Linked DNA regions of Homo sapiens: regions 2, 3, 4, 5, 6 and 7 are each linked to region 1. The links come from fine-mapping of genetic effects on gene expression. A gene starts in region 1. Each other region holds a variant in brackets. All regions are shown on one strand. Distances are from middle to middle. Region 1 holds the start of SERINC2 (serine incorporator 2). Region 2 holds the start of SNRNP40 (small nuclear ribonucleoprotein U5 subunit 40). Region 3 holds the start of LOC124903892 (a long non-coding RNA gene). Region 4 overlaps ZCCHC17 (zinc finger CCHC-type containing 17). Region 5 holds the start of LINC01226 (long intergenic non-protein coding RNA 1226). Region 6 has its middle 28 kb from the start of TINAGL1. Region 7 holds the start of LOC124903900 (a long non-coding RNA gene).

The links. PIP is the estimated chance that this variant, and not a neighbour inherited with it, causes the effect.
Region 2: its variant is fine-mapped to the expression of SERINC2 in whole blood (TOPMed, PIP above 0.99). The same link has a PIP of 0.9 or more in lung.
Region 3: its variant is fine-mapped to the expression of SERINC2 in whole blood (INTERVAL, PIP 0.97).
Region 4: its variant is fine-mapped to the expression of SERINC2 in whole blood (INTERVAL, PIP 0.99).
Region 5: its variant is fine-mapped to the expression of SERINC2 in monocytes after LPS (Quach 2016, PIP 0.95).
Region 6: its variant is fine-mapped to the expression of SERINC2 in sun-exposed skin (GTEx, PIP above 0.99).
Region 7: its variant is fine-mapped to the expression of SERINC2 in left ventricle (GTEx, PIP 0.99).

Annotation. Positions count from the first base shown.
Region 1 is chr1:31,411,337-31,415,400 of GRCh38, forward strand. It overlaps SERINC2 (serine incorporator 2), which reads left to right and starts at 1,877. Exons shown (of 10, transcript NM_178865.5): 1 at 1,877-1,968. The coding sequence starts at 1,930. RefSeq lists enhancers at 1,625-2,125, 3,396-3,944 and silencers at 1,692-1,761, 1,842-1,901.
Region 2 is chr1:31,295,476-31,299,539 of GRCh38, forward strand. SNRNP40 (small nuclear ribonucleoprotein U5 subunit 40) reads right to left here and starts at 1,313. Exons shown (of 10, transcript NM_004814.3): 1 at 1,136-1,313. The coding sequence starts at 1,276. It overlaps ZCCHC17 (zinc finger CCHC-type containing 17), which reads left to right and starts at 1,557. Exons shown (of 8, transcript NM_016505.4): 1 at 1,557-1,600. RefSeq lists an enhancer at 1,082-1,291. The variant G/A (reference allele first, on the strand shown) is at 2,266.
Region 3 is chr1:31,373,436-31,377,499 of GRCh38, forward strand. LOC124903892 (a long non-coding RNA gene) reads left to right here and starts at 864. Exons shown (of 2, transcript XR_007065573.1): 1 at 864-952; 2 at 3,377-4,052. RefSeq lists silencers at 1-121, 3,367-3,661. The variant C/T (reference allele first, on the strand shown) is at 2,047.
Region 4 is chr1:31,332,632-31,336,695 of GRCh38, forward strand. The region is part of intron 3 of ZCCHC17 (zinc finger CCHC-type containing 17); the gene reads left to right. Among named protein-coding and RNA genes, the nearest start is that of ZCCHC17, 38 kb to the left of the region's middle. The variant A/ATCTCTC (reference allele first, on the strand shown) is at 1,672.
Region 5 is chr1:31,516,796-31,520,859 of GRCh38, forward strand. It overlaps LINC01226 (long intergenic non-protein coding RNA 1226), which reads left to right and starts at 1,640. Exons shown (of 3, transcript NR_027085.1): 1 at 1,640-2,041. The variant C/A (reference allele first, on the strand shown) is at 1,818.
Region 6 is chr1:31,546,121-31,550,184 of GRCh38, forward strand. No RefSeq gene overlaps it. Among named protein-coding and RNA genes, the nearest start is that of TINAGL1, 28 kb to the right of the region's middle. RefSeq lists a silencer at 2,858-2,977 and enhancers at 3,048-3,287, 3,958-4,027. The variant C/A (reference allele first, on the strand shown) is at 2,132.
Region 7 is chr1:31,468,971-31,473,034 of GRCh38, forward strand. It overlaps LOC124903900 (a long non-coding RNA gene), which reads right to left and starts at 2,506. Exons shown (of 2, transcript XR_007065585.1): 1 at 2,096-2,506. It overlaps LOC105379772 (a long non-coding RNA gene), which reads left to right and starts at 2,148. Exons shown (of 3, transcript XR_001737618.2): 1 at 2,148-2,264. RefSeq lists an enhancer at 1,792-2,991. The variant A/G (reference allele first, on the strand shown) is at 1,988.

The sequences.
Region 1 (4,064 bases):
AACAACAACCACAGTGATCACAGTCAACGTTTATTCGACGCTTGATTTACATTTCGCGTGTCACTACTTCTTTGTTTCTCGGTTTCCTCATCTGTAAACGAGTGGGTGGGGAATTAATCGACTTCTCAGGGCTGTTGTGGGGCTCAAATGGTACCACGGGGGAAAGTTGGGCATGTGCTCGGGTTGTTTGTGAGGCCATAAGGGAGGCCCATATTGTTTGGAGGCTTGGGGGAATCAGGAGGATGTTCATTCCTAATGGAACCAGGTAGTGGGTTGGGGGTGAGGGTGGTGGCTCTCTTCACTGAGAGGTATGGCATGTGAGCAAGCTTCAAAGGGGAGAAAGAGGGATAAGGAGAAGGACCTTTAAGAGGAGGGCATCTGCCAGGTGCAGTGCCTCACATCTGTAATACCAGCACTTTGGGAGGCCAAGGCAGGAGGATTGCTTAAGCCCAGGAGTTCGAGACTAGCCTGGACAACATAAGGAGACCTCATCTCTACACAAAATTTTTAAAAAATTAGCTGGGTGTGGTAGTACACACTGGTGGTCACAGCTACTTGGGAGGCTGAGGTGGGAGGATCACTTGGGTCCAGGAGGTTGAAGCTGCAGTGAGCCATGATTGGGCCACTGTGTTCCAGCCTGGGTGACAGAGTGAGACCCTGTCTCAAAAAAAAAAAAAAAAAAAAAAAAAAAGAGGAGGGCATTGTGTGGGCAAAAGTGCGGAGGAGGAAAAGTATAGGGTGTGTTTGTGGAACAGTCCTGGTGCAATTAATGGCTAAGCCTGGCGCCCAGTGAATCAGCCAAGGATGCAGTCAACCAGCTCTTTGGCCCTGGGGCCAGCTTCGAGGCACAGAGACTTCTTTCCCTAACATTATCTTGTCCAGAGGTGGCTGAGGACAGGGCTAAGGGTGAAGGGAGACTAATTACAGAGCCCTACTTCTGGGTCTCTCACACCTACCCCTGGAAAGCCATCTGTCAGGAATGTGGCCGCCCCTCCCCACCTTCTGACCTCCTTAGCTAGGGACCAGTTTGGGCATCCCTAGGGAGTGATAAGCCACCAAGCAGGGGTGGCTGTAGGGAGTGTGTAGCTCCCAGCAGGCTGTTGGGAGTCAGTGGAGTTTGAAGAACAGATGGAGAGAAGGGAGGATGGGTTTAGAGTGAGAGGCTGGGGTCTTAGAAGAAGCAGTAGGTGGGCATGGTGGCATGCACCTGTAGTCCCAGCTACTCAGGAGCCTGAAGCAGGAGGATCACTTGAGCCCAGGAGGTCGAGGCTGCAGTGAGCTATGTTTGCACCACTGCACTCCAGCCTGGGTGACAGAGCAAGACCCTGTCTCTTAAAAAGGAAGAAGAAAACAGTGACGATGGGGGCTTACATTTGTCAAGCACCTACCATGTGTTGTAACCACCCTGTGAGGTATGTATCCTCACTTTACAGACCGGGAAACTGAGGCTCATAGAGGTGCAGTGACTTGCCGAAGTTTCTTTATCCAGTCATTCAGCATTCAACCTCAGCATCTACGTATTGAGCAGAGGCCCTGCGCCAAGCACTGAGGAGTCAGCGGTGACCACCTCTTGGCTTCTGTTCCCAAGGGTGACAGTGTCCTGGGGTCACACGGGCTCAAACCGAGGTCGATTTCCGAACGCTCACTTTGGAGCAGGATGCGAGCCCGGGCCACGATTGGGTCAGGTTGCGCCGCTCGCGTGGCCGCGGGAATCCCCGACCGGCCCCTTCCCTAGGGTCCCTCCTGGCGCACCTGCCCCAGGTGAGTCTGGGGAGGCCCCGAGCGCCGCCGGAAAGCGTCGAGCGGCTTCGGTAGGTGGGGCGGGGCCGGGGCGGGGCCGGGGCCGGGGAGGGGCCAGGCCCGGCACCCGGATCCCGAGGTCCGCGCCCCGCGCCCGGCGCCGGGCGCCCGAAGCCGGGAGCCGCCGCCATGGGGGCCTGCCTGGGAGCCTGCTCCCTGCTCAGCTGCGTGAGTCCCGACCCCGGCGCCCGCCCGCGCGCGCCGCCCGTTCCTGCTGCGGGCCCTCACTTTCTTCTGTTCTGCTCCGAGTAGTTTCTTCTTTTTCCTTCCTGCAAACTTGTCTTTCTGGGCCGGTGCCCCGCCTGCTCGCCCTCCTGGACCTTCACTCGGCACCCGGATCCCGCTGCCCCCGTCCCCCTGCTCAGTCCTGGCCGGCAGGCGCCGGGCAGCTGCGGTCCCGGCTCGGGTTTCCGCGGGCAGGAGGGGAGTGCCCTCGGCGGGCGCCCTCCTGGGACCTGGAGAGACTAAGCCTGGAGCCCGGGGTCGGGGCAGCTCTGTGGGCCCTCGTCGCCCCACTTGGGGCGGTCCTCGGGGTGGCCTCTGTCCCCGTCCCGGACGCCCTGGTTCTCTGTGTAGGTCGCCCGGGCCCCGTCCCTCCTGGCGAGTGCCCTGCCCTACCCCTCTGGCCGCCTGCCAGTCCGCCTGTTCCTGTCGCTCGGGCTCCGCCTGTCCGTTCGTATTTGTCTGGTTCCTGTCTGTGTCCGTCGTTCGTCCGACTGTCTTTGTCCGTCTGCTGTCTTCTGTCCGTCTGCCCGTCCGCCCGTCCGTCCCTCAGTCTCTCTGCGGTCCCTTTACCGTCCTCAGTCTGGCTCGCGCTGCCTCTCAGGCACTTCCCCAGCTCGCCCCGGATCATCTGGGCCCCAGCGCGGAGACTGGGATGGGAGCGGAGGGAGCCCCGGACTTTCTTAGCTGCCCTCGAGTGAGGCGGGTGCGGGTCGTCACGGACCACCGGGCGGAACTCTGGGTTGGGAGAGCAGGAATCGAGGGAGGTTCGGGTGTGCGCGGGGAGTGCCCGGTCGCGGGTTCGGGACCTGTGGGGAGGCCAACCTCTGTTCTGTAGCTGCAGCCGCAGAGGGGAGGGGCTCCAGCAAGACCCCGGCTGGGAGGCCCGTTCTCCCTTCCCTTTCCCCAGCCCCCCTCTCCTTTCCTCTTCCCCTCATTAAATCTGAGGTTCATTCAGGCAGCCCCCTCCCCCTCTGGCCCCACACAAAGAGGCCCTGAGAGGGAGAAGGGGCTGCAGCGGCTGCTGAATCTCGGGACTCGCTTTCCTTTGTCCCTGACGGGTTGTGTGTGTGTGTGTGTGTGTGTGTGTGTGTGTGAGAGAGAGAGAGAGAGAGAGGAGGGGGTGTAGGGGAGAGCTGAGGGTCTAGAGATTTACTTTACAGCCTTTTTCTGAGAATGAGATCAGCATAGACAGCACAGAGAGGCAAGAGAGCCTCTCGCCTCATTAGGCCTCCATTTTTCGTGTGTGTGTGTGCGTGTGCATGTGCGTGTGCAGGAGGAGGAATCAAGCTGGTGCCTGAAATCCCTCCCAGCCCAAAGAATTCAAGGTTTGGGCCAGGTCTCTGCCAACAAGGGTTTGCTTCCTGGTGAGGGAGGCAGAGCTTCCACAGTGGACCTGATTTCCATCGGTTGCACCTGGTGAGGCACAGGCCCTGCTGGGCTGGCCTGGGGGTGGAGATGTTGAGGGGCAGCCTGCCAGCCCTGTGTGCCTTGGTCACCCCATCTGGCAGTTGACAGTAACAGGGCCTTTCTCACAATGCTGTTGGGAGATGAGGCACAGTTCCTGGCATATCGTGAGTGCTCCTTGTGGGAATTATTGCTAACATCAAGGAAAGGTGGGTGGAGAATTCCATTTGGAGACAATGCAAAGCCAAGTGCTGGTCTCTGAGTTACAGCATTCTACAATGCTGAGAGCAGATAGGACTGCTCAAACCATCTGTTTACAGATGAGAAGACTGCCACCCGCCCGGAGAAGATAGCTGACTTTCCTAAGGTTGCACAGGGAAAGGATGAAGAACTGCATAGTTAGGATCAACATCTGATTCCTGGTCCAGGCTTCTGCCCACACCTTCCCTCCCTTCCCCACATCCTGGCTGCCTGAGGCACAGGGCTGGTCCAGGGAAGAATTGGGAGATAACTTAGTGAGTAATATCAGCAAGGGACCCGGCCCTCCCTTCAGTGCCATCCCCTTGGGGTTCTGGCCTCCGACATTTACTGAGGTTCTGGCCTCTGACATTTACTGAGCCAGGTACTGTTCCGAG
Region 2 (4,064 bases), 120 kb before region 1:
AGTAAACCATGTAAACATTTGTGAAGAGCAATCCCACAGAGAGGACAGCAAATGCAAAGGTCCTGAAGCAGAGGCTTGGAAGAGAGAGTAACTGAAGCCAGGTGAGCAATAAGAAATTGGTCAGAGAGGTAAAGGGAAAGAGGGCAAATAATTACAAGAATTTTGGTTTTTACTCTGGATGAAGTACAAAGCCACCAGAAAGTTTTCTGCAGAGTGTAATGTGATCTGATGTTTAGAAGGATTCCTTTGGTTATTGGCTTGGTAACAGGTGCTGATACAAAGGTAGAAAGTGGAAGACCAGTTAGGGTCCCACTACAAAAATGCCAGATGAGATAATAATGGCTTAGGCCATGAGGCAATGATGGAGATGGTAGAAGTAGCAATTCTAGACCTATTTTGAGGACGGTGCCAGCAGGATTTATTGAGGAGATGTGAGGACACTCGTATTTCCTCGTCTGAGCCTAAACAGGACATTAGAAGTGTGATCACTATTTCTATCTTACAAAAAATGTAGTTAGGAGCATGGTTTCTCAGTTCGAAATCTGCTTCTATCACGTACTTGGTAAGTCTGTTTTTCCATCTGCAAAATGGGTTAATAACGTTCCTAACAGGCTGCTACCAAGATCAATGGAAATTTCATATACGAAACACTTTAGTACAAGAGTCAATGAATGTTAGCTGCTATTTAGTTGTTAATAATACTAGTGCAGAGAAATAAAGGGAAAAGCAACTTGCCCAAAGTCCCAAAACGAGCCAACACAAATCATTTCCCTTTTTTCTTCCCTCCCTCATTCATTCATTCTACACACTCTTCGGAATTTTTGTTCTATGCCAGATCCATGTTAGAGTCAGGATGCTTAAACCCGGGTCAGGGTTTTGAGCCCAAGGTCCTCAACTCTAATTCTAATGCTATCTCAGGGCAGTCGAGAGGCTGAAAACGGGCGCCAAACGGGGGAACACGTACGCAGCATTCGCAGGCTATGGGGAGCTTTTACAGTGTTTATGTGCTTTAACTCTGCGTAGAAACTCTCGTTCTGCCCCCGCAATGCGGGAAAGGGTCAGGGATCACCAGATACAGCGCTCTGAGGGGAGGAAGATGAGCTGAGGGCCAAAGGCCGCCTGCTTCTTCACTTACCGCTTGCAGCAAGGCTCCCGGCGTCGCCTGCTGCTGCCCGGCTCCTGGGCCAGACCCCGCTCCCAACAGCAACTCATGCCGCTGCCGCTTGACTGGAACCAGCGGCAACTCTGGGCCCTTACGCTTCTGCTGTTCTATCATGGCGGCAACCGGTCTCTTCAGCGCCGCCACTGACCGCGCTGCCGCTCTCAGGCGCCACGCAATTGGTTCCAAATTAGTCCTTCCTCCACAACTTCCAGCTTGGAAGAACCAATCGGCTTTCAATATTTCCATTTGCACCGCCCTCGGATAGTCTCTTGTTATTGGGCATATCTTTCTGACGTCATGAGAGTGCGATACCAGGATTGGTGGACGGAGCTGGCGACCGCCCTAGGCGCGCTGGGTCTTGTGGGTGGAAACGCGCTGGCTGACTGGGGTCGGCGTTTAGTTCAGCGCAGCGACTCGGGGACCTGGAGCTGACGCCTAGTACGTATGAGGAAGAACGGGGTGGGTGGCTGCCTGAGTCTGGAGGCGACGCCTCGGTTGTGCAGTCTGAACCTGCCCTTCTCAGCTGAGGGTGCTGACAGCAAGGGGTGGGAGGCGGGCCCCGAGTCCCCAGCTGTGGTAAGTAGTAGCCTGGGCTCCCTTTCGGGGCAGGAGCGGAGCCTTGGGGTCTCTGGCGGCAAGACCCAGCCCCTGCGGCTCCCTTCTTCAAGAGCGCCCATCGTGGCCAGTCCTGTGCCGGGCATTCCCAGGGAGAAAGGCCTGCGTCCCAGCCTCCTCCGGTGCCCCATTTGGCCGAGGAGGCTGACTTGTTTCTGCCACTGATTTTGCAGTTTTTGATCAGGGCCTACTGTATGCCCCCCTGAGAGAGACAGTGATGAAGGAAATGTCCGACTCCTTCTCCAGAGCACAGTCTTGTTGAGAAATTTGAGACTCATGCCCATGAACGTGGTCATTGCCTCAGTCGTCCTGCTGATATTCATTTAGCAGCGCGTTGGGGGTATGTTGTGAACCGGGCACGGTCCCTACTCTCAGGGCGTTTAACTCTGGTGGGGAAAACGTTAAACAATGACCTCACTAATACATGGAAATGCCTCCTACTGCTGCCTGATGCTATGAGTGCCTGAAATAAGCAGGAAGGTTTTTCA[G/A]AGGAAAAGATGCCTGCGCTGGTAGCTGCAGGAAGTGTTGTAATTAATTAGGTGAAGAAGTGAAGGCAGAACCTTCCATAGAGAACTACTTGTTCAGAGCCCTGAGGCACTTGGGAGGAAAATGACTAAAAGCACAAAGAGCCAGTGTGGCTGGTACAAAGAGAATGAAGGGAGTATGGTACAAGATGAAGCTGTACGTGATAGCGGTCAGACCTTGCAGGAATTTGTAGCTTTTATTTTAAAACGGATGAGATACCACTGAGCCGTCTTCCCCCAGTGGGGTGTGGTGGAGGAGGGGACTTGATCCCTCAGGCTCAGTGGTGTGAACAGACGGGGGTTGGGGAAGCCCTAGTCGATGTATGTGGACCACTTGGGATATGCAGTAATCCTGGTCAGAGATGTCAGTGAGGACTGAGATATGGGTGGAACTGCAGAGAATTGGACAGATTCTAGAGGTATATAGGAGGTAAAATGGGTGGGACTTGGTGATGGGTTGATTTTAGGGAGTGAAGAGAGGAATCAAAGGTAACTCCTAGGTTTCTGGCTTATGTAGTTGAATAGATGGTGGTACCATTCACTCACTATCACGGAATCCCTCAAGCTGGATAGGGAACACTAGAAGATGATTAGAGACCAGTTTTTTTTTGTTTTTTTTTTTTTTTTGAGACAGGTTCTTGCTCTGTCGCCCAGGCTGGAGTGTGGTGGTGCAACCTTGGCTCACTGCAACCTCCACCTCCCAGGTTCAAGCAATTCTCCTGCCTTAGCCTCCCCAGTAGCTGGGATTACAGGCGCCTCCACTGTGCCCGGCCAATTTTTGTATTTTTGGTGGAGATGGGGTTCCACCATATTGGCCAGGCTGGTCTCCAACTCCTGGCCTCAAGTGATCCACCTGCCTCAGCCTCCCAAAATTCTGGGATTACAGGCCTGAGCCACTGCTCCCAGCTGAGATCAGTTTTTATTGATTGATTGATTGATTGTGTGGGGTCATTCATGACATCCAAGAGGCAGTTTGAAATACAGCTTTGTGCTCAGAAGAGAGATTTGTGTTGGGAATATAAAATTGGGCATAATTTGTATATACATGAATTGAGCCATAGGTGTGGGTAAGGTCAGCTAAGTCAGAACCTTGACTAGTTCCAACATTTAATGGTGAAGAACAGGTGAACCTACAGGAGATACAGAAGAAAGGAAGGAGGACTGGAAGAATGTCTCAGAAGCAAAAGAATGATTTGTGATAGAAATTTCTAGAATTTAAATAACATGAAGATTGAAAAACATATTTTGGCTTTTATCATCATGGAGGTCACAGTAACCTTAGCAAGAGTTATTTTGTTGGTGTGATTGGGCCAAAAGCCAGATATGAGGCAAGGATTTGGACAAGAAAATGTAGGTAGTGAACCTACACAGTATTTTTCATAGATCTGATTGTAAAGAGGAGGAGAGGATGTGCTAACCGATGGGGATAAGGGATTATCCAGGATCCAGTTGAGGATCCAGTTTTGAGAAATTTGAGAATATTGTAGAAGATTTGAAAGTCACTGTGGAGTGTGGGAGAATGAGGTTACTAGAGAAATGTAGGATGCAAGGAAAAAAAAAATTTTTTTCCAGCATATCCAGCGGTTTAGTGCATGCATGGAGAAAACCTTTCTGGGTATGGCAAGGACATCGCTTGCTCAAGACACATTCTAACCTCTAATATGTCTTCTCTTCCTGAAAAATCTGGAAAACTAAAAACCATTTTCTTGACTCCCTTGCACCTAAGGTGAAAATTGAATTTGGAACTGAGTTAAATGTGGAAA
Region 3 (4,064 bases), 38 kb before region 1:
AGAGCAGAGATGAGACTAGAAAAGCAAAACGCCCTTGGGCTGGTGCCCACGCCGGGGAAAGCTCTGGTTGACTTCTGGCACGGGCATCTGTCCTCGTTTTACAAGTGAGGAGTCCGAGGCTCACAGGGGAACTGACAAGGTCTCAAGAAATAGGAGGGGGTGAATGGAGCTCAGATTGCAAGCTTAGTCTAGCGGGCTTCAGAGCTCGCGCTCTCCCTTCACTCTCACTGCCTGGTGGCGGAGACAGTCACCAGCGGCTCGGTCTGCGGCTGAGCTGACCTTGTCCTCTGCCTGTTTTGAGCAAAAGCCTGACCCTTCGCGCCCCGCCCGCCTCACACGTGCTTGCCCCTCCCTGCGGAATGTCTCCTGCTGGCCCTCCTCCGTCCCCACCCCACCCCACCATCTAGCTCCCCACCCGCCCCTGCAAGTGCTCTGGGCTTTTCCGGTTTCTTCGCACAGCTCCGAGCTTTAGCTCAGGTCGTTCCCAGCTCCCCTCCTGCAGAAATTCTGCCAATTCGGTCAGCTCTTCAAGGCCCATGGCTGCCTTCCCCACCTGCCGCCCTTTCTTTGGCCTGTGCACACTAGCAAGCCGCCTGCACTTTTGGGTAATTTGCTGCCTCCTTTCGAGAGCCTGTTGTGCGGTGGTTTGTCACTGTATAGTTTACTAAGCACTTTCAGTAAAAATAAGACCTGCCTTGTCTTGCTATTTATTGCATGCTGAGGGCTTTGGGTGTATTGTTTCATTGAACTTTTTATTTTATTATTATTTTTTAGAGACAAAGTCTCTCGCTGTGTCTCCCAGGCTGGAGTACTGTGACGCCATCATAGCTCACTGCAGCCTCAAACTCCGGGGCTCAGGGGATCCTCCTACCTTAGCCTCCCCAGCAGCTGGGACTATAGGCACACGCCACCACACCTGGCCTCATTGGACTTTTAAAGCAAAATCCATGAAGTAGGTGTTACTGTATTATTTTCTCTTTTTAAAAAGGTGAACAAGTTGAAGCTCTGAGGAGCTCACTCATTAATTCAGCAGTTAATAAAGCACCTACTTTGTGCCAGGCCCTGCTTTGGAGAGAGACAACAGGGAACAAGACACACATTCACCTCTGGGCAGCCAGACATAAAACTAGCGTGGTGCCTCTAAAGGGAGTCCTGTCCTGTCCTGACCTGAGGGCCCAATGTAGACTTCTCAAAGGAAGTGAGGTATAAATGAATTTCTGAGGGATGGCAGGAGGCCCTGCACACCAAGGAGTAGTGCCGAACTGAATTTCAGCCAGCAGCAGCCTGTCCAGGGTGGGCCTGCAGGAGCCAACACAGGAGCCCAGAGGCCTGCCACGTGCGTAGAGTATGGCAGGCCCTCCTTCCTGGGACTCTGTTTCTCCATGTGCAAACCCTGCCTCCCTTCCCTGGACTGTTCTGAGAACAAGGCCAGGGAGGAAGAGCCCTCTCCCCACCCTAAGATCTTGATTCCTTTGGACGGTCCAGTTGCCAGAAGACTCAGAGGCTCATTTCTGCCAAAGCTATAGGGACAGGCTTCAGGGCTGGGCATGGAGCCTTGGTGATCTCACTGTTGGAACAGGTGCCAGGAGAGGAGGAGGGGGAAAAGATGATTTCTGACTCAAGGTCGCAGCCCTCACACATAGGGCCTCCTCTCAAGGACTGTGTGGCCAGGAACTAGAACTGACTCCTTATGTGGCCCTTGTAATGCAATGATGGAGAGCTGGGGCTGGGCTAATGGCTGCTGGCAGATCTGCGTTCTGATCTGAATTTTGTTGGGTACTAGCTGTGTGGCCTTGGGCAATTCACTTAAGCCATTCTGAGTCTCCATTTTTTTTTTTTTTTTTTTGAGAAGGAGTCTCGTTGCCCAGGCTGAAGTGCAGTGGTGTGATCTTGGCTCACTGCAACCTCCACCTCCTGGGTTCAAGCAATTCTCCTGCCTCAGCCTCCCAAGTAGCTGGGATTACAGGCAACTGCCACCACATCTGGATAATTTTTGTATTTTTAGTAGAGACGGGGTTTCGCCATGTTGGCCAGGCTGGTCTTAAA[C/T]TCCTGACCTCAGGTGATCTGCCCACCTGGACCTCCTAAAGTTCTGGGATTACAGGCATGAGCCACCACGCCAGCTTCAGTTTCATCTTTAAAATGAAGGGATTTTTTTTTGGAGATGGAGTCTTGCACTCTGTCACCCAGGCTGGAGTGCAATGGTGTTATCTCAGCTCACTGCAACCTCTGCCTCCCAGGTTCAAGTGATTCTCCTGCCTCAGCCTCCCAGGTTCAAGTGATTCTCCTGCCTCAGCCTCCCAAGTAGCTGGGACTATAGGCGCGGGCCACCGCGCCAGGCTAATTTTTATATTTTTAGTAGAGACGGGGTTTCACCATATTGGCCAGGCTGGCCTTGAACTCCTGACCTCAAGTGATCCGCCTGCCTTGGCCTCCCAAAGTGCTGGGATTACAGGCATGAGCCACCACGCCTGGCCTATTTATTTATTTGGAGAGAGTCTCACTCTGTCACTCAGGCTGGAGTGCAGTGGCATGATCTCAGCTCATGGCATTCTTGACCTCCCAGACTCAAGGGATCCTCCCACCTCAGCCTCCTGAGTAGTTAGGACTACAGGCGCATGGCACCACGCCTGGCTAATTTTTTGTGCATTTTTTTGGTAGAGACAGGGTTTTGCCGTGTTGCCCAGGCTGGTGTTGGACTCCTGGCCTCAAGCAATCTGCTTGCCTCGGCTTCCAAAGTGCTGAGACTACAGGTGTGAGCCACGACACCTGGCCCGAGATAATACATTTAAATGCTAAGCATGGTTGACTTACGAAAGTTCACTGCTGCTGCTCCTCCTGCTGCTATTGTTATTGTCTCCAGGGATAGTGCAGACACCTAAGACCTAGTCTGAGCTCTGCCACTACCTACTGAGTTAGTTACCTGAGGCAGATTGCTTTGCTTCTTTAATCCTCAGTTTTATTATTTCTGGGACAGGATTAGAAAGGGCTTCAACTGAAAAAGGGGCTATAGAGGTTTTTCAGAATGGGTTGGGGTGGGGTCACTGCCAGAAAATCCATTTGCTCCCTCTCTTGGGCCTGTCCAAATTGAGCAGCACGGGGCTTTGAGGAGCTCTACTCGACAAACCTCAGACCAACTACCCTCACTGCCCTTCCCTCACCTCGCCATGGTGCTCAGACCTGGGTCACCGAGGTTAACCCATAAGCCACACCCCATCTCCTTTCCTCCTGGTTTACACCCTTCTCCCTTCTAAGTATGTACAGTTCTCTCCTCATCCCTCTGATCTACCTGCATCCTCTTCCTCTGTTATGCTGACTACATTTGGGGAAGAATGTGAGCCCTGTCCCTTTTTGTACTCCTCTGTCTTGCCCTTGGCAGATCCAGATGTGGATATAACATCTGGCAGGCAGCAAGACCAGCGCCTGCCAAGAACAGCATCTCCCCAGCCCTCATCCTATGGTGAGGTCACTGTTCTATGTTTCCACGGCAACCACAGGCTGGGAAGATGGAGAAGAGGAGAGATGAGTAACCAGAAGCCAGCCAATGAGATGAGCTGCAGCACCGGATGATCCATGGGGCCATGGGGAGCGGGGACAAGGGAGGCCTGCTCAGCATGTTCAGCTGTTTCCTGGACCCTCCCTGCCATCTGGATGCCTCCACTAGAGAATGTGCTACTAGCACCAGGAAAGAGCTAGAGGCTGAAGAAGCTGAGTAGAAGCTCTGCTGACCCAAGAACATGGCCCTCCTTTTTTGCCTCTTCAGGGTCTAAGTCTATGGTTGCTGACTACCCCCGCCCCATCCCACCCCTAATATCTGCAACTGGGAACTTTTCCCATTTGCTGGGAATGATGGTGGGGCTCTTTCTGCCTCTGCCTGCCATAGAACCAGCAAGTCTTAGACATCCCTTCTTTTTATGCCCTTGGTCCATGGGGTCTTTGTTACCAGAAAGGGGTCCCAATCCAGACCCCAAGAGAGAGTTCTTGCATCTCACACAAGAAAGAATTCGGGGCAAATCCGCAGAATAAAGTAAAAGCAAGTTTATTAGAGAAGTAAAGAAATGTCTGTT
Region 4 (4,064 bases), 79 kb before region 1:
CTGTTAACATTTTGGTGTATTTCTTTTTTTTTTGAGATGGAGTCTTGCTTTGTCACCAGGCTGGAGTGTAGTGGCATGATCCTGGGTTCAGGCAATTCTCCTGCCTTAGCTTCCCAAGTAGCTGAGACTACAGGTGCCTGCCACCACACCTGGCTAATTTTTGTATTTTTAGTAGAGATGGAGTTTCACCATGTTGGCCAGGCTGGTCTTGAACTCCTGACCTCAAGTGATCCACCCGGCTCAGCCTCCGAAGGTGCTGGGATCACAAGCATGAGCCACCGCGCTTGGCCAACATTTTGGTGTATTTCTGTATATTCACATATGTGTACACAATTTAATATGTTGAGATTAAGATTATACTGTATATTTAAAATGTGTAGTTTTTTGCACGTAATGGACCTTAAACATTTCCCCATTAAAAAAATATTTTCTATAAACATTTAATGGCTTTATTCTGTCATTCAGATGTACCACATAATCATTTTAAGTTGTTTCCAGTTTTTCACTGCTAACGCTTCTAGACTGGTCATGTTTATCCAGGAGAGAGCTACCTGTACCAAAAATAAAATAAAATAAGTACAATAAAATAATAAAATAGAATTTAAAAAAATGCCGGGTGCAGTGGCTCACACCTGTAATCCCAGCACTTTGGGAGGCCAGGGCGGGTGGATCAAGAGATCAGGAGTTCAAGACCAGCCTGGCCAACATAGTGAAACCCTGTCTCTACTAAAAATACAAAAAATTAGCCGGGCGTGGTGGCAGGCACCTGTAATCGCAGCTACTCGGGAGGCTGAGGCAGGAGAATCACTTGAACCCAGGAGGTGGAGGTTGCAGTGAGCAGAGATTGTGCCACTGCACTCCAGCCTGGGTGACAGAGTGAGACTCCATCTCAAAAAAATAAAAAATAAAATACATATGTGTGTGTGTATGTGTGTGTATATATATAGTTTACTCTCACTGACTCTTAGATATACTCTAAAGACCCATGGAAATTCAGTTGTAGCATAAAATAAATACATTTATAGCGTAAAAGAGCAAAATATTTCAAATTAACTTGCTTAAGCTACTTAAAGACAAAAAAAGTTCATTTGAAATCTTTTGTCATTTTTTCACTGGTTATATGGAATCAGGTGAGAGAAGGACAAGTTTTGATGCCATTATTTCTATGTGGTACTCCAGTAAATAGACTTTCTGTTTTAGGGAAGAAGAATAGTGTTCCCTCAAGTATATTAGGTTCAACATTAATTTCCATCATAACTTTCATTAGCAATAGAGGAAAGAGATGAATTTTAACCAGTAGAGGACAGTTGCAGCCAAAAACAAGTCAAGATGAAGGGCTTCCCCTTTATGGGATCTGAATTTCCTCTTCAAACTTTAAAATTAGGCTAGTTGGCTCATTACATCATAGGGGAAAAAAATAAACCCCATTTGCATGAATTTCACCAAATTTGGAGATTGTGTGTTGATCTAAAATTAAAAACATAATGTATATAAAACATTTTAGAGGCCCCAGAGTTGTTTAGATAGGTAGGCTATCAACCTCCAGAATCAGCTTATGTAGGTATGTGGGATGTAGTGATGATGGATAGAGAAAGTAGTGGCTCCCAGTAGGAGCTCTAAACAGAAAGGGCAGGTATTTTGAGTTTCAGGCATCTGCAGGCATCCATGTGC[A/ATCTCTC]TCTCTCTCTCTCTCTCTCTCTCTCTCTCTCTCTCTGTGTGTGTGTGTGTGTGTGTGTGTGTGTGTGTGTGTGTGTGTGTGTGTGTGAAAGAGAGAGTGGGAGAATGAGAATAGAGGTGGATAAATTTCCCAAGCAACTTCAGGGAGGGCAGTTATTTTAGACAGGATGACTGATTTTTATTCATTCAGAGTAATTATTTATGTTCATTTTCTCCAGAATTGAAGTAATCCTCTATTATTATTTATTATCGAAAATAAATGAAAAGGTTAACTTGTAATACTATAACCACTGTTGGCATTTCAAGTCATTTCTTTCTAATTTTTAAAATGTTTTTAAAGCATTTGTAATCATACTGTATAATTTTGCATTATGCTTTTGTTATTTAGTATGGGAAAATGCTAGATACCTACAGTACTTGATACATAATAGGCACTCAATAACTATTTACTAAAGAAGGAATTATTGACTTGTTTAAAAATCTTTTGAATGGACCATCAAGCGACTATACCATAATTGACCTAATTGTTATCCTTTGTTGTTTCTAAATTTTCCTGTCTTAAAAATACATTGAATATTTTGATGTAAATCACTTTTCCTGAAGCATATAGTTTTTCCTATGTATAAAGTTATTTTCTTAGGACAGGTTCCCAGAAGCAATTAGGGGTCAAATAAAGTATTAGAACTCTTGGTTGCAAGGGGCAGAAACTTAATTGGGAAACATTTTGGCCAATCTTGTCAGGGGCTTCCAGGATAACTCTCAGTTATGTTTCTCAGTTATGTTTCTGCCCCTTGTCTCTTTCCTCTATTGCTGGGACTTCAGCCTTTGCTGTATTGGGTGCTCAGTTTATACTCCCAGGGCTTTGCTTCTTGTTTACCAGTGCTCTTCTTTGCTTTTCTCTGGCAGACTCTTGCCATCTGGTGGTAAAGATTGGCTTTGGCAATTTTTTGTAGTTTACAATCCTGATTTGTATATGTAAAATGTAATAAGCAAGGTGGTTCTCCCAAGGAAAGGATTTTGGACAGACAGGAAAAGGATGTTTGCTATAAGTGTTTTATTAAATGTTATTAAAATATTATTTGATTTATTTTTGAGACAAAGTCTCGCTCTGTCACCTAGGCTGGAGTGCAGTGGTGCCATCACAGCTTACTGTAGCCTTGACTTCCTGGGCTCAAGCCATCCTCCCACCTCAGCCTCCTGAGTATCTAGGACTACAAGCATGCACCACCACATCCTATTAATTTTTCTGTAATTTTTCTAGAGATGGGGTCTCACTGTATTGCCCAGGCTAGTCTTGAATACCTGGGCTCAAGCAGTCCTCCCAAAGTGCTGGGATTACAGGCCTGAGCTTCCATGCCCAGCAATTATTTCATTTTAAATTATTTTTATTAAATGTGTAATAGTTTATTAGTATTTTATCATTCTTGATAGCCATTGATAGTGACTTCCAAAAGTTTATTCTAGCCTTAGTAATAGTTCTTATTTTACTATCCTTTCACCACATTGAATATTATTTTCTAAATACTTTGCTAATTTAATGGATTAAAAATAGTAGCTTGTTTATATTTCCTTTTTTAACTTAACGTCTATCATAAATATTTTTTGTAATTAATTTAAATGGCTGTTTACTTTTTTATTCCACAGATTTACTATGTTTGCCATGCTGTTTTCCAGTTATTGTTCATTAGGGTTGTTTTATGGTTCTTATATATTTTTTAACCTCTGTAGGTAATAATACCGCAAGTTATTTATGTATTTATGTATGTATGTATGTATTTATTTATTTGTGAGATGGGGGTCTTGCTCTGTCACCCAGGCTGGAGTGCAGTGGCGCAATCTCAGCTCACTCCAACCTCTGCCTCCTGGGCTCAAGCAGTGCTCCCACCTCAGCCTCTTGAGTAGCTGGGATCACAGGTTTGCACCACCACGCCCAGGTAATTTTTGTATTTTTGGTAGAGATGGGGTTTTATCATGTTGCCCAGGCTAGACTGCAAGTTATTTCAGCTCTGTAAGTTTTTTGGCTCTTGTGAGTTTTTCCTTTGAAAAAATTCTATTGATGATATTCTTGCATCAAAGATAAACATCTTTATCTTTTTGCTTTCAAATAATTTTACCAACTTATATTTCTATCAGTATTGTGTAACTACAGATATTTTATCACATCTTTACTAATATGGAGCATTACATTTTTTAAATTTTTTGTTTTTTATTTTTAAAATAAGATTTACAATATTTAAAAAATAGAGATGGGGTCTCGTTATGTTGACCAGGCTGGTCTCAAACTCCTTGCCTCAAGGTATTCTCCCATCTTGGCCTTGCAAAGTGTTGGGATTACAGGCGTGAGCCACTGTGCCTGGCCTATTTTATTTACTTATTTTTTTGAACCAAGGTCTC
Region 5 (4,064 bases), 110 kb after region 1:
CCTAACAGCGTAGTTGTGACTGCAAAGGAAAAGTTATCCTCAGCCTTTCATGTGTATTGGCTTATTCAGTCCTCATAACAACCCTACCAAGTAGCATGTGTTAGCCTCACCATTTGGCAGAGGAAAATGGAAGCACAGAAAGGTCAAGTACTTGCCCAGATCAGCAGCAGAACAGGCTCAAAGGTTGGCAGTCTGGTTGCAGAGTCCATGAACTTCACTACCACACTCCACAGCAGTTGTGAGACCATGGGCAAGCCATCTAAACTTTTGAACTTTAATATCTTCATCCATAAAATGGGGACGATAATACCCTGCCCCATTGCCCAGTGAGTGTGTACACCCTTAACTCGGTGCATAGGCTTGGGTTGGCTTGATCCGGTCTCATTCATTTCTCCCCACCTGACCCTACACTTGAGTCAGAGTATCTCATGTTGGCTGAGCTTGAAGTATGCAGGAGCACACCCCAGAAAGGCCAGGGCACAAGCCCTGCTTGGGGTGGAGCAGGGAGGGCCTGCTCTGCCCCACTGGGGTGTTCTTAGGTGGAAGTGGGTGTGGGATGGTCCCTCTGGGAGAACTCTCTCCCTCCAGCCTCCCTGCAGAGTCACCCAGGGAACTGAATCACAGCACAAGTGAAATGGGAAAAGTTCCCTTATCCCCCTCGCAGGGCCTGCAATGGGGGTGTGGCTCGCTTCTTTGGTACCCTGCTGCTCAAACCTCTAGGGGGAGCATGCAGATGGGCAGGTTGTGGGGCTTCAACCCCACGGCAGTGTCTAGGGGTGAATGCTTACAGTTCCTGAAGCCCCAATGGGTGTGTGTTACAGAGCGCTCTTTTAGTTTTGCTATCTGTAGGCAGCTTGTGTTAATCAGCTCGATTAGATCCTCTGCCTTATCACAAGGACAGAGGGCTTTCTGTATCCCAGGGTTTTTGCCTTGGTGTACTGGAGGAATCAGATCACACGTGGGCTTAGGGACCGAGTGCAAGTTTTTATTGAGTGGAAGTAGCTCTCAGCAGATGGGGGAGCCAGAAGGGAGATGGAGTGGGAAGGTGAACTATCAAGATAAAATCAGTCTACTACTCCATAACAGAGGTAAGGAAGAGTATGCATGGAATACAGGACATCCTTTAGAGCATCTCTTAGTATTACCATGCCCTTTGATTAAGGTCAATGGGAAACTACAATAGCGCAATCCAGGCAGGACTACAAATAGCCCAGACCCCTCAGGAATGAAGGTTTGGGTCACTCCACCAGGAAAAAAACCACAACCTGCTGAGGTGCTTGCTGAAGGCAAAGGGAATACAGAATGGGTAGTAGAAGAAGGTAATCATCAATACCACCTATGACCATGTGACCAGCTGCAGAAATGCGGACTGTAACTATCATGAGTATTTCCTCCTTCTTTGGCTAAAAACATGTTTGTGCATGTATACACTTGTACGAAGAAAATATATCCATTTTATTTCCTTTTCCTTTATCATGTGACATAAGATTTACTGACTTCATATCAACATTTAAGTATTATTAACTTTATGTAATAATATTTGGGTTGGGGATTGGTGGGTTTCCAGTTGTACCAAGGATAGTTGTATTATTTTAGGCATAATTATGACCTTATTATTGTCTTTATTTGAAGATTATGTATGATCTCAGGAGATGTGTATGGGTTCAGCTTGACAAGGGGTGGACTTACCATGGTTAATACTGAGTGTCAACTTGATTGGATTAAAGATGCAAAGTATTGATCCTGGGTGTGTCTGTGAGGGTGTTGCCAAAGAAGATTAACATTTGGGTCAGCGGGCTGGAGAAGGCAGACCCACC[C/A]TTAATCTGGTGGGCACCATCTAATCAGCTGCCAGCGAATATACAGCAGGAAGAAAAAGGTGAAAAGGCAAGACTGGCCTAGCCTCCCAGCCTACATCTTTCTCCCATGCTGGATGCTTCCTGCCCTTGAACATCAGACTCCAAGTTCTTCAGTTTTGAGACTTGGACTGGCTCTCCTTGCTCCTCAAGCTTGCAGACAGCCTATTGTGGGACCTTGTGATCATGTAAGTTAATACTTAATAAACTCCCTTATATATATATATATATCCTATTAGTTCTGTCCATCTAGAGAACCCTAACACAAGTGTTTTCTTCATTTTCCTTCATATTTATGAAGTGTGCTTTCTTGCCATCCTTTCCAGACTCATCACCTTATGTTATTAGTTGACTTTTTAAAAATCATTATTATTATTTGAGATGGAGTCTCGCTCTGTCACCCAGACTGGAGTGCAGTGGTGTGATCTTGGCTCACTGCAACCTCCATCTCCCCAGTTCAGCCGATTCTCGCGCCTTAGCCTCCTGAGTAGCTGGGACTGCAGGTGTGGGCCACCACGCCTGGCTAATTTTTGTGTTTTTAATAGAGATAGGGTTTCACCGTGTTGGCCAGGCTGGTCTCAAACTCCTGACTTCAAGTGATCTGGCTGCCTTAGCCTCCCAAATCGCTGGGATTACAGGCATGAGCCACTGTGCCCAGCCTCTAACTCTCTTTTAACATAAATTAATTCCTCTTCCTATATTTGTTCTCAGTGCTATTGACTTCCTGAAGAAACTGTGTCAATTCTCATGTAGAGTTTTTACACTAGGGATACAGTCACTTGCTTCTTTATACTTCATGGGATACCTTGTAAGTCTCCAGTGCATCACACCTGGAGGCATATGATGTCTGCTGGTCTTGCTTTTAATGATGCTAAGATCTATCTTTAGGTTCAGGCAATGGCAACCTTACCCTTCACTGAGAAGTTCTCCATCAACCTTTCACTGAGTGATTTTGGCATCCATTGAAAACCATTGCTTGAATCAGTTATTTTCTTAGGGGCTTAAAAAATGATAATTTTCTGATTCTAATTTTTTCTTCATGTAGTAGCTGAAATTCTTCTGCATAGAAGAGCTTTCCTTCATTCATTTTGGCTATTTAATTACCAGAAAATGCAGTTAGGCATAAAAAATGCTTAATTCTTTTCCTTTAATTAACAATTTTTAGAGTAATAAGTTGGTGCCCCAACTTCCCCAACGGTGCCCAGTAACTTTTATTTTCTTTCTGTATCTTCTTTTCTTCTCCTGCTCTTTTTCATCTGCTGGCTAGAAGTAGGGTACTTCAATACCCTAGGAGATGGCAAGACCTCATGAAGGAAGTTGCCTGGGTCCCTGAATGACTACATGGAGCTAATTCCTTCCTGTGACTTGGGGAAGAATGGGACTGTGATGGGAACAAGAAATGAGCTTTCTTAGTCACAACCCACTGAGATTGTGATGGTTTGTTACAGCATTGACCCTATCCTGACCAAACAGCTATTACATTTTTATTCTTTTTTATTTTTTTTTTAAATTCTTTTTGAGACAGAGTTTAGCTCTTGTTGCCCAGGCTGGAATGCAATGGTATGATATCGGCTCACTGCAACCTCCGCTTCCCAAGTTCAAGCAATTCTTCTGCCTCAGCCTCCCAAGTAGCTGAGATTTCAGGCGCCCCCCACCAGGCCCAACTAATTTTTTGTATTTTTAGTAGAGACCGGTTTCACCATGTTGTCCAGACTGGTCTTGAACTTCTGGCCTCAGGTGATCCACCTGCCTTGGCGTCCCAAAGTGTTGGGATTACAGGCGTGAGCCACTGCGCCTGGCCTACATTTTTAATTTCTAAGAGCTCTTTCTTGTTCTCTGATTGTTTCTTTTCCATAGCATAGTGTTCTTGTTTTATGCATATCTCTTCTGTTTCTGATGATGTTTAACTCTTAATGACACATTCTTCTGTTCTGTGCATTTTTTTCTGCCTCTCCTGACTTCCTTTTTATTGTTTGTGGGTTTTGCTCTCAATTTCAACTAAAACTAGTTTAACATTTATTTGGAGGAGGAACAACATTATGTGGAGGAAGGTTTAGAAAAAGGAAGGTTTCTTTTGACAGTCCTTGGCTTCTCTTTCCTGTCCTAAACAATTCAGCTGTGGTCCACATTTGCTCACCCTAATTACTAGCAAAGCAAGAGCCTAATATTTACCCAGACAGAATCTTCTAGGAAGGCAATCAACTCCCAGCC
Region 6 (4,064 bases), 130 kb after region 1:
GCATCCATCCATCCATTCATCCTTCCATCCATCCACGTATCCATGCATCCATCCATTCATCTATGCATGCATGCATCCATCCATCCATCCATCTATGCATGCATGCATGCATCCATCCATCCATCCATACATGCATGCATTCATCCATCCATCCGTGAATGCATCCATCCATCCATGTATCCATTTATCCATCTGTGCAACCATCCATCCATCCATGTATCCATTTATCCATCTGTGCAACCATCCATCCATCCATTTGTTCATCCATCCATGCATCCATCCATCCATCCATCCATCCATCCATGTATCCATTTATCCAACCATGCATCTATCCATCCATCCATGCATTCATCCATCCATCCCTCCATGCATCCACCCATCCATCCATGAATCCATCCATCATCCATCCATCCATCCATCCATCCGTCCATCCATGCATGCATCTATTCATCCATCCATCCATCTACTCAATAAAAGTGTGAGGTCCTAGTCTTCCTGGCACTGCTCCAGACACAGGTAACACATGGTGAACAAGATGGGTGAGAACCCACACGTGTGCAATTTACCTTCCAGTTGGGAGAAGACGGCATAAAAAAACATATAAAGAAACGATGAAGTGGAAGCATTGGTGCTGTGAAGAGAAATTAAACAGGATGAAGGGATAGTGAATGGTAGAGGGCGGGGCTACTTTAGGTAGAGGGGTCAGGGAGGCTTCTCTGAGGAGAAGAGACTTGAAGGGAAGAGGGAGGGGCTGTGCGGTTGGCTGGGTCGCAGCTACAGGCATTGAAACAGCAAGTTCCAAGGCTGGAATGGAGACTGTACCAAAAAAAGGGGGGGCGTCAAGGAGTCCTGAGTGGGTGAGCAGAGTGAGTCAGAGGGAAGTGTAAGGAGATGAGGCAGGAGAAGGGTCCCCACTGCTCCTGTCAAGCCTTGTTGTGTCGGGACTTGAACTTTATTCTAAGCAGGTGAATGCGGTGCATGCAAGAGAGACAGAGAGAATGTGGCAGGACCAAGGAGGAGGCTATGCCACTTATGTCACTCCTGGCAAAAATAAGGGGGCATGGAGTAGGCTGTTTGTGGTGCAGATGGTGAGAGCAGTCAGGTCCAGCACAGATTTTAAAGGTTGGACCCAGAGAATTTGCTGCAGAATCAGATGTGGGGTGTAAGGCAGAGAGGAGTCAAGGGCAACTTCAGGATTTGGGGCCGGAACTGCCATTAGACAGACAGGGACACTGAGGGAGAAGCAGGTTAGGTGGGATTAAAATCAAGAGTTCAAGTTAAGTTTGAGCAGCCTGTTAGACCTCCAGCGAGGGCCAGATAGAAGAATCTGGTTTCCAGGGAGAGGTCAGGATGAGAGATACACACGTGGGAATGATTGGCATTGGGTGGACTTTATATTCTCTGGGTCAGTGAGACAGCTGGGAAGTGACCACGGATAGAGAAGAGACAAAGTCACAGAAACCAAGAGAGGTAATGTTGCAAGGACGGAACACTCAACTCTCAAATGCTGCTGAGACGTGGGCTGAGGGCTGAGAATGGAATTGGGAAGAACCGAGGTCACTGGTGATCCTGAGGGTTTCAGTGGCAAGGGCAGGTGGACTGCAGTGGGGCCCGGTGGGGATGGGTGGAGCATGGGCCCCTCTCCCGGAGAGTTGCACTGTAAACGAGGGCAGACATATGGGAGTGCAGCTAGAGGGAGGGAACGTAGGGTCAAGGGAGAGTTTATTCTGAATGAGAGAGATCACAGCTTGTTTTTAGGCTGACGGGCATGATCCATAGAGGGGAAAGTAATTAAGATGCAGAAGAGAGGCCGGGGGTGGTGGCTCACGCCTGTAATCTCAGCACTTTGGGAGGCTGAGGTGGGTGGATCATTTGAGGACAGGAGTTCGAGACCATCCTGGCCAGCATGGTGAAAACTCGCCTCTACTAAAAATAAAAATAAAAAAAAATTAGCTGGGTGTGGTGGAGGGCACCTGTAGTACCAGCTACTTGGGAGGCTGAGGTAACAGAATCGCTTGAACCCTGGAGGCAGGGGTTGCAGTGAGCTGAGATTGTGCCACTGCACTCTAGCCTGGGCAACAAATTGAGACTCCATCTCAAAAAAAAAAAAATGCAGAAGAGAAAGGTGAGA[C/A]TTGCCAGGGCAAAACCCAGGGTGGTGAAAGGGCTTGGCACCCTGTGCATGAGGGAGGATGTGCCCTCAGTGTGTACCTCTGTGGTACCTGGGTGGTGCTGGTTGGTGGAAGATTTGGCATCCTGAGAATGCGGCATTTTCGTCTGATTCTCTTTTCTCAGTGAGATAAGAACCAAGGTCACAGCCAATAGCCAGGGGGCAGGAGGGGGTCTTGGTGAGGACTCGAGGAGAAGAGGGATGGGGGTGGGAGAGTTAATGGGCCGGTGAAGCCTGGTTGGGTTGCCGGAAGCACAGGGGCCCATTCCAGGTTTGTGGGGTCACCTTGGAGTGAGGCCAGTCATCTGATGTACCTTGTCCTCAGCCACATGCAGCTGCGTGGGTGCAGCAGCAGAATGGGTGGAGGGCTTTGGGGAAGAGCCAACGTGGGCGGGGGGCGTGGCTTGGAGTATGAGGTGGCCGTGGGCTCCCTGCAGGCCCAGGCTCCATTTACGGCCAGCTGCCTGCTGTCCTCGCCCTGCTCCGGCATGCTGTCTTTCCACATCCGTTACCCACTGCGCGCTCATAATGCTCCCACTTTACAGAGGCCATTTACTCTGGCCACCTAGTAGTTGGTGGCAGAGTTGGGATTTGAATCCAAATGGAGGTTCATTGTTCTCCATTCAGGGTAGCAGGGGCACGCGTGCTGTGTTTAAGAGAGACTTGCATGCCTCGTGGTGGAAATAAACTTTGGTGGATTAAACTTTAGGTATTTTGCGCCCTGGTTGGGCCAGGCTTTGTCCCAGTTCGACCACAGTGACTTACTGCCACCTACTGGCCATTCTCAGTGTTGCACCCACGTAGGATTTGCTCACGGTCTGGGTCTAACCATGCCTGGTTCAAAGGGGAGGACCGGAGCTCTTATCTCTTTGACAAATCAGACAAACCAGGAAACAGAGGTCCAGAGAGGTGACTTTAAGCTTTCATCTGCACTTGCCTACCCCATCTATTCAGTTGTTCATTCGTTCAATAAATATTTCTTGGAAACCTACTATGTGCTAGGTGCTGGGGCTCTGCAGGGAATGAGACAGCAGAGAGCGCTGCTCCGTATAGCTGACATGCCCTGTAGGGGAGCGGGAGGGAGGGACACACCATCAACAAGTAAATCAGTGAGAGGATGAAAGATGGCGATGGGTGCCGGGAAGGAACAAGGAGACAGCGACTGGAGAGGGTGGTCAGGAGTTGCCAGTGGAGGGAAGACCTGAAGGGTGAGAGGGACGGGGAAAGACACCCTAGGAAGAGGGAGCAGCGTCACAAAGGCCCTGAGAGGCTGAAAGGTTTGGGCGGGTTCCAGGAACACAGGCGGCCAGGGAGGTGGAGCCCACACCTCAACACACAACTACCCGTGAAGAACGTGGAGCGATCCGTGTAGATCCTTGTAGAAGGTTCTCTCAGAGGGCCATGTCACTGACCTGTCAGTCAGCCCACAGCCTCCTCCCAGTCCCCAGATAGCTGACCACTCCCTCCTTGAAATTCTCTCCTCTCTCAGCTTGTGCAACACCAACCTCCGGTGGCAGGAAAAACTATTATTATTCTCTTGTGAAAATTAAAACTTAACCATCAACATAGAGCTGTTACTGGTTTGAAGGAAGCCATTGACGCTGTGTCAAAGGCTAGAGCAGAAAACAGTGGCATGCAGTGTCAAAGGTCAAAGTCAACACTTCTCGGACTGGCACAGGGAAGGTAGGTCAGGACAGAGTCAGTCTTGCTTGCAGCTGTCACCATGTTATAAGCGTGTTGATGGCCCTGTCTGCTGCTAGTGGTGAGTCATTCTTGCAAATAAAGTGACTATTTATAAGTTTATAGATATGAGTATGCTTTGTTCAAATCCTACGAGTAGTGTTCAAGAAATAAGGTGTGGGAGTAAAATAAGTCTGTGATCCAGTAAGTCCATTGG
Region 7 (4,064 bases), 58 kb after region 1:
GGGAACAATAGGGTGGGTAGTTTGGATTATTTGATTAATAGCTCCAAGGTCTTGCACTAACTGGTATGACACGTCTGGCTTCTTTTTTTTTGATACAGAGTCTCACTCTATCACCCAGGCTGGAGTGCAGTGGCGCAATCTCAGCTCACTGCAAGCTCCGCTTCCCAGGTTCACACCATTCTCCTGCCTCAGCCTCCCGAGTAGCTGGGACCACAGGCACCTGCCACCACGCCCAGCTCGTTTTTTGTATTTTTAGTAGAGACGGGGTTTCACTGTGTTAGCCAGGATGGTCTCAATCTCCTGACCTTGTAATCCACGTGCCTTGGCCTCCAAAAGTGCTGGGATTACAGGTGTGAGCCACTGCGCCTGGCCCCCATCTGGCTTCTTTACAGGCAATATTGGAGTGTTATAGGGAGACACACAGGGTTTAAGAAGCCCAACACCAAGACGACCTTCAATTATCAATTATAGGTCTTAAATTTACCCTAGTTTTCAAAGAAATAGGGTACATTGCTTTCTCTTTACTACTTCCCCAGGTGTTTTTAATAGTTTTTTTTTTTAATTTAACATGAATTGGAGGAATCTGTAACTTTCCTTGCTTCCCATCTTTTGCTGTGGTGGTAAGTTTAGGGAAAGGAGGAATTTTCTATGATTGATTTCGAGGCCTAAGCCTAATTTTAGCATTAAATCTCTTCCTTATAGATTTGTCCCTGCTTCCAGAATTAGCAGAAAGTTAATATTAGCTGATTTGCTTTTACATATGACTTTATTCTTTTTCCCACTTGGGACATTCTTTTTTGAAGTGACCTATTTTTAATTTGAAGCATTTGTTTTGTCCTCTTTCCCTTTTCCTCTCCCTATCTCTCTCTCTCTCTCTCTGAATTCCTCTGTCTCTTTCCCTCTCTCTCTGACTTCCTCTGTCTCTTTCCCTCTCTCTCTCTCTGACTTCCTCTGTCCCCTCTGTCAGTCTTTCTCTCGCCTCTAAGATTTTTTTCTCTACCTTTGAGTCTCCTGGCTTTACTCTTTTGTACCCTTTATGTTGCCTGGAGAGTGGGGGTCTAGGTTCTTTATAGGTTCTTGCCCCCTGGGTACTTTGTTGTATGGTGGACAGCAGAATTTTTGCCCTCTGCTTTTGTTTTTCTTCATCTCTTCCTACATATACTTTTTGGGCTTCTCTTAGAAGCTCTTCTATAGGTTTATCTTTCTAGTTCCCTATCTTTTGTAATTTCTTGTTAATATCTGGCCAACTGTTAGTGACAAAATGAAGTTTTAACATTCCCTGTCCAAGGGGATCCTCGAGACCTGGACCAGTATATTTTCTCATTTATTCCTTTAATCTGTCTAAAAATTCTATAGGCCCTTAATCTTTCCCTTGCTGTATATCAAATGTTTGGGTAAGATTCTGGGTTCGGGGTACTGATTCTTTAATCCCCTTTATTATCAATTCCTTAAGGTCTTGCATATTTTCTTGGTTGGCTGCATTGTTATTGTCCCACCAGGGGTCTTGGGTGGGAAATTTTTGATCCGCTGTAGGAACGTTTTGGCCGGAAGCCGGGGGCGGGGTGTTCATGGTTCCTAGGCTCCCATTGCAGCCCTATGGATCATGCCTCTTTCTTCCCCTGAGAAGAGGGGAAAGGGAAGTTCTGAATATCCTTTTTACATTGCTCTATCTCGTGTGAAGTCCTTTTAGGGAAGGGTACTCAGGCTGGTCGTGAGTGGGCTCTTGGGAACATTCCCAAGAGGCAGAATTATAAGGAGAGGGACAACAGGGATAGGAGAAGGGTCTGGGACAGCAGCTGCTTTTTCTTGTTTTTGGTCCTTTCATTACCCTTCTAATATTTTATCATTAGGCTGAGCGGATTATTAGGGGGAATATTATCATTGCTAGTGTATCCTTTTTATCCCTTACCTTACTTGGGGTATTTCCCATTTTTAGTGTGAGGCTCAATTCCCCTTGCTAGAAATGTCTTGCCTATTTTTAACCCTC[A/G]AGATACCCCAACCAGGGAATACTTCACCGCCCCACCTCCTCCGTGTCTTTTCTTACCTTGATATGTCCTGATCAAGGAATACCACCACCCCCTGTGGCTTCTCTTACCTTGGTCTGTCCCAACCACCAAGGAAATACTTTGCTGGCTCCCAGGCGTTTCCTTCCTCGGTCTGTGCACAGAGTTGCCTGGTCACTGTGGTGTGTGAGGATCCTTTCCCCTGGGTCGCCGGCTGGTTTCTTTCGACATTGCTGAGTCCAGGTTTATTTGTCACACCAGGTGAGTCTCGATTCCTGACTCTTGAGGCCACCGCAACAAGGCAGTGGGGCGTGAGAGAGGAATAGAGGCCACCCCTAGAGGAGAATAGCTCCCCATATGGGCCACGAGATTGTTAGAAACAAATGCCTGTTCCTTGGTGCTGCAGAGAAATAGCACTTGAACATAAATTTAATTTTCTCAGCCAGGTAATTTTTACTTCTATAGAAGGGTGCGACTCGTGGTTGGAGTAATGGCGAAAGCACACCTGAACAAGGGGAGGGAAGCGGTTCGTATTCCTGGTGCAGGTAGTCCCTGCTGTTGTGTCATTCCCCTATTGGCTAGGATTGGACCGCACAGTGTAAGCTAATTCCGATTGGCTATTTTAAAGAGAGCAGGGGTACAAGCTGGAGTGACAGGGTGAGAAGTTTGGCGGGAGGGGTGGTTACAGAACAGTTGACTCAGGATGATTCAGGTCAGAGCAGGTGACAGGGGTGACTCAAGATGGAGCAGGTGACCAGGGGTGACTCAGGACAAAGCAGGTGACCAGGGGAACAGATGTGAACTACTGATTAGAACTGGCAGGAAACTTGTTTACTGAAACTAGAGGCAAGCGGGGCAATAGAACCAGGAAGTTAGACTTTAAAATGGAGAATAAAGAGAGCTGAACATACTGACATAGTGATTCTTTGAAAAGAAACTTGGAGTTCACGATCTTTAACAAGAATATCTAGTTCTTCCTGATTTAAGCCAGGAGGGTTGTATCTTTCCAGGAATTTATGCATCTCTGCTAGGTTTTCTAGTTTATGTGTGTAAAGGTGTTCATAGTAGCCTTGAATGAGTTTTTGTATTTCTGTGGTGTTGGTTGTAATACCTCCTATTTTGTTTCTAATTGAGCTTATTTGGATTTTTCTCTTCTTTTCTTGGTTAATCTTGCTAATGGTCTATCAATTTTATTTATATTTTCAAAGAACCAGTTTTTGTTTTATCTTTTGTATTTTGTTGTTGTTATTTAAATTTCATTTAGTTCTGCTCTGATCTTGGTTATTTCCTTTCTTCTGCTGGATTTGGATTTGGTTTGTTCTTGTTTCTCTAGTTCCTTGAGGTGTGACCCTAGATTGTCTGTTTGTGCTCTTTCAGGCTTTTTGATGTAGGCATTTAGGGCTATGAACTTTTCTCTTAGCACTGCTGTATTAGTTTGTTTTCATGCTGCTGATAAAGACACACCTGAAACTGGGAATAAAGAGAGGTTTAATTGGACTTACACAGTTCCACATGGCTGGGGAGGCCTCAGAATCATGGGTGGTGGCAAAAAGCACTTCTTACATGGCGACGGCAAGAGAAAAAATGAGGAAGAAGCAAAAAGGGAAACCCCTGACAAACCCATCAGATCTCGTGAGACTTATTCACTTTCATGAGAACAGCACAGGAAAGACCGGCCCCTGTGATTTGATTACCTCCCCCAGGGTCCCTCCCAAAACATGTGAGAATTCTGGGAGATGCAATTCAAGTTTAGATTTGGGTAGAGTCACAGCCAAACCATATCATTCTGCTTCTGGCCCCTCCAAATCTCATGTCCTCACATTTCAAAACCAATCATGCCTTCCCAACAGTCCCCCAAAGCCTTAGCTCATTTCAGCATTAACCCAAAAGTCCATGGTACAAAGTCTCATCTGAGACAAGGCAAGTCCCTTCTGCCTATGAGCCTGTAAAATAAAAAACAAGCTAGTCGCTTCCTAGATACAATGTGGGTATAGGTATTGGGTAAATATAACTGTTCCAAATGGGAGAAATTGGCCAAAACAAAGGGGTTAAAGGGCCCAT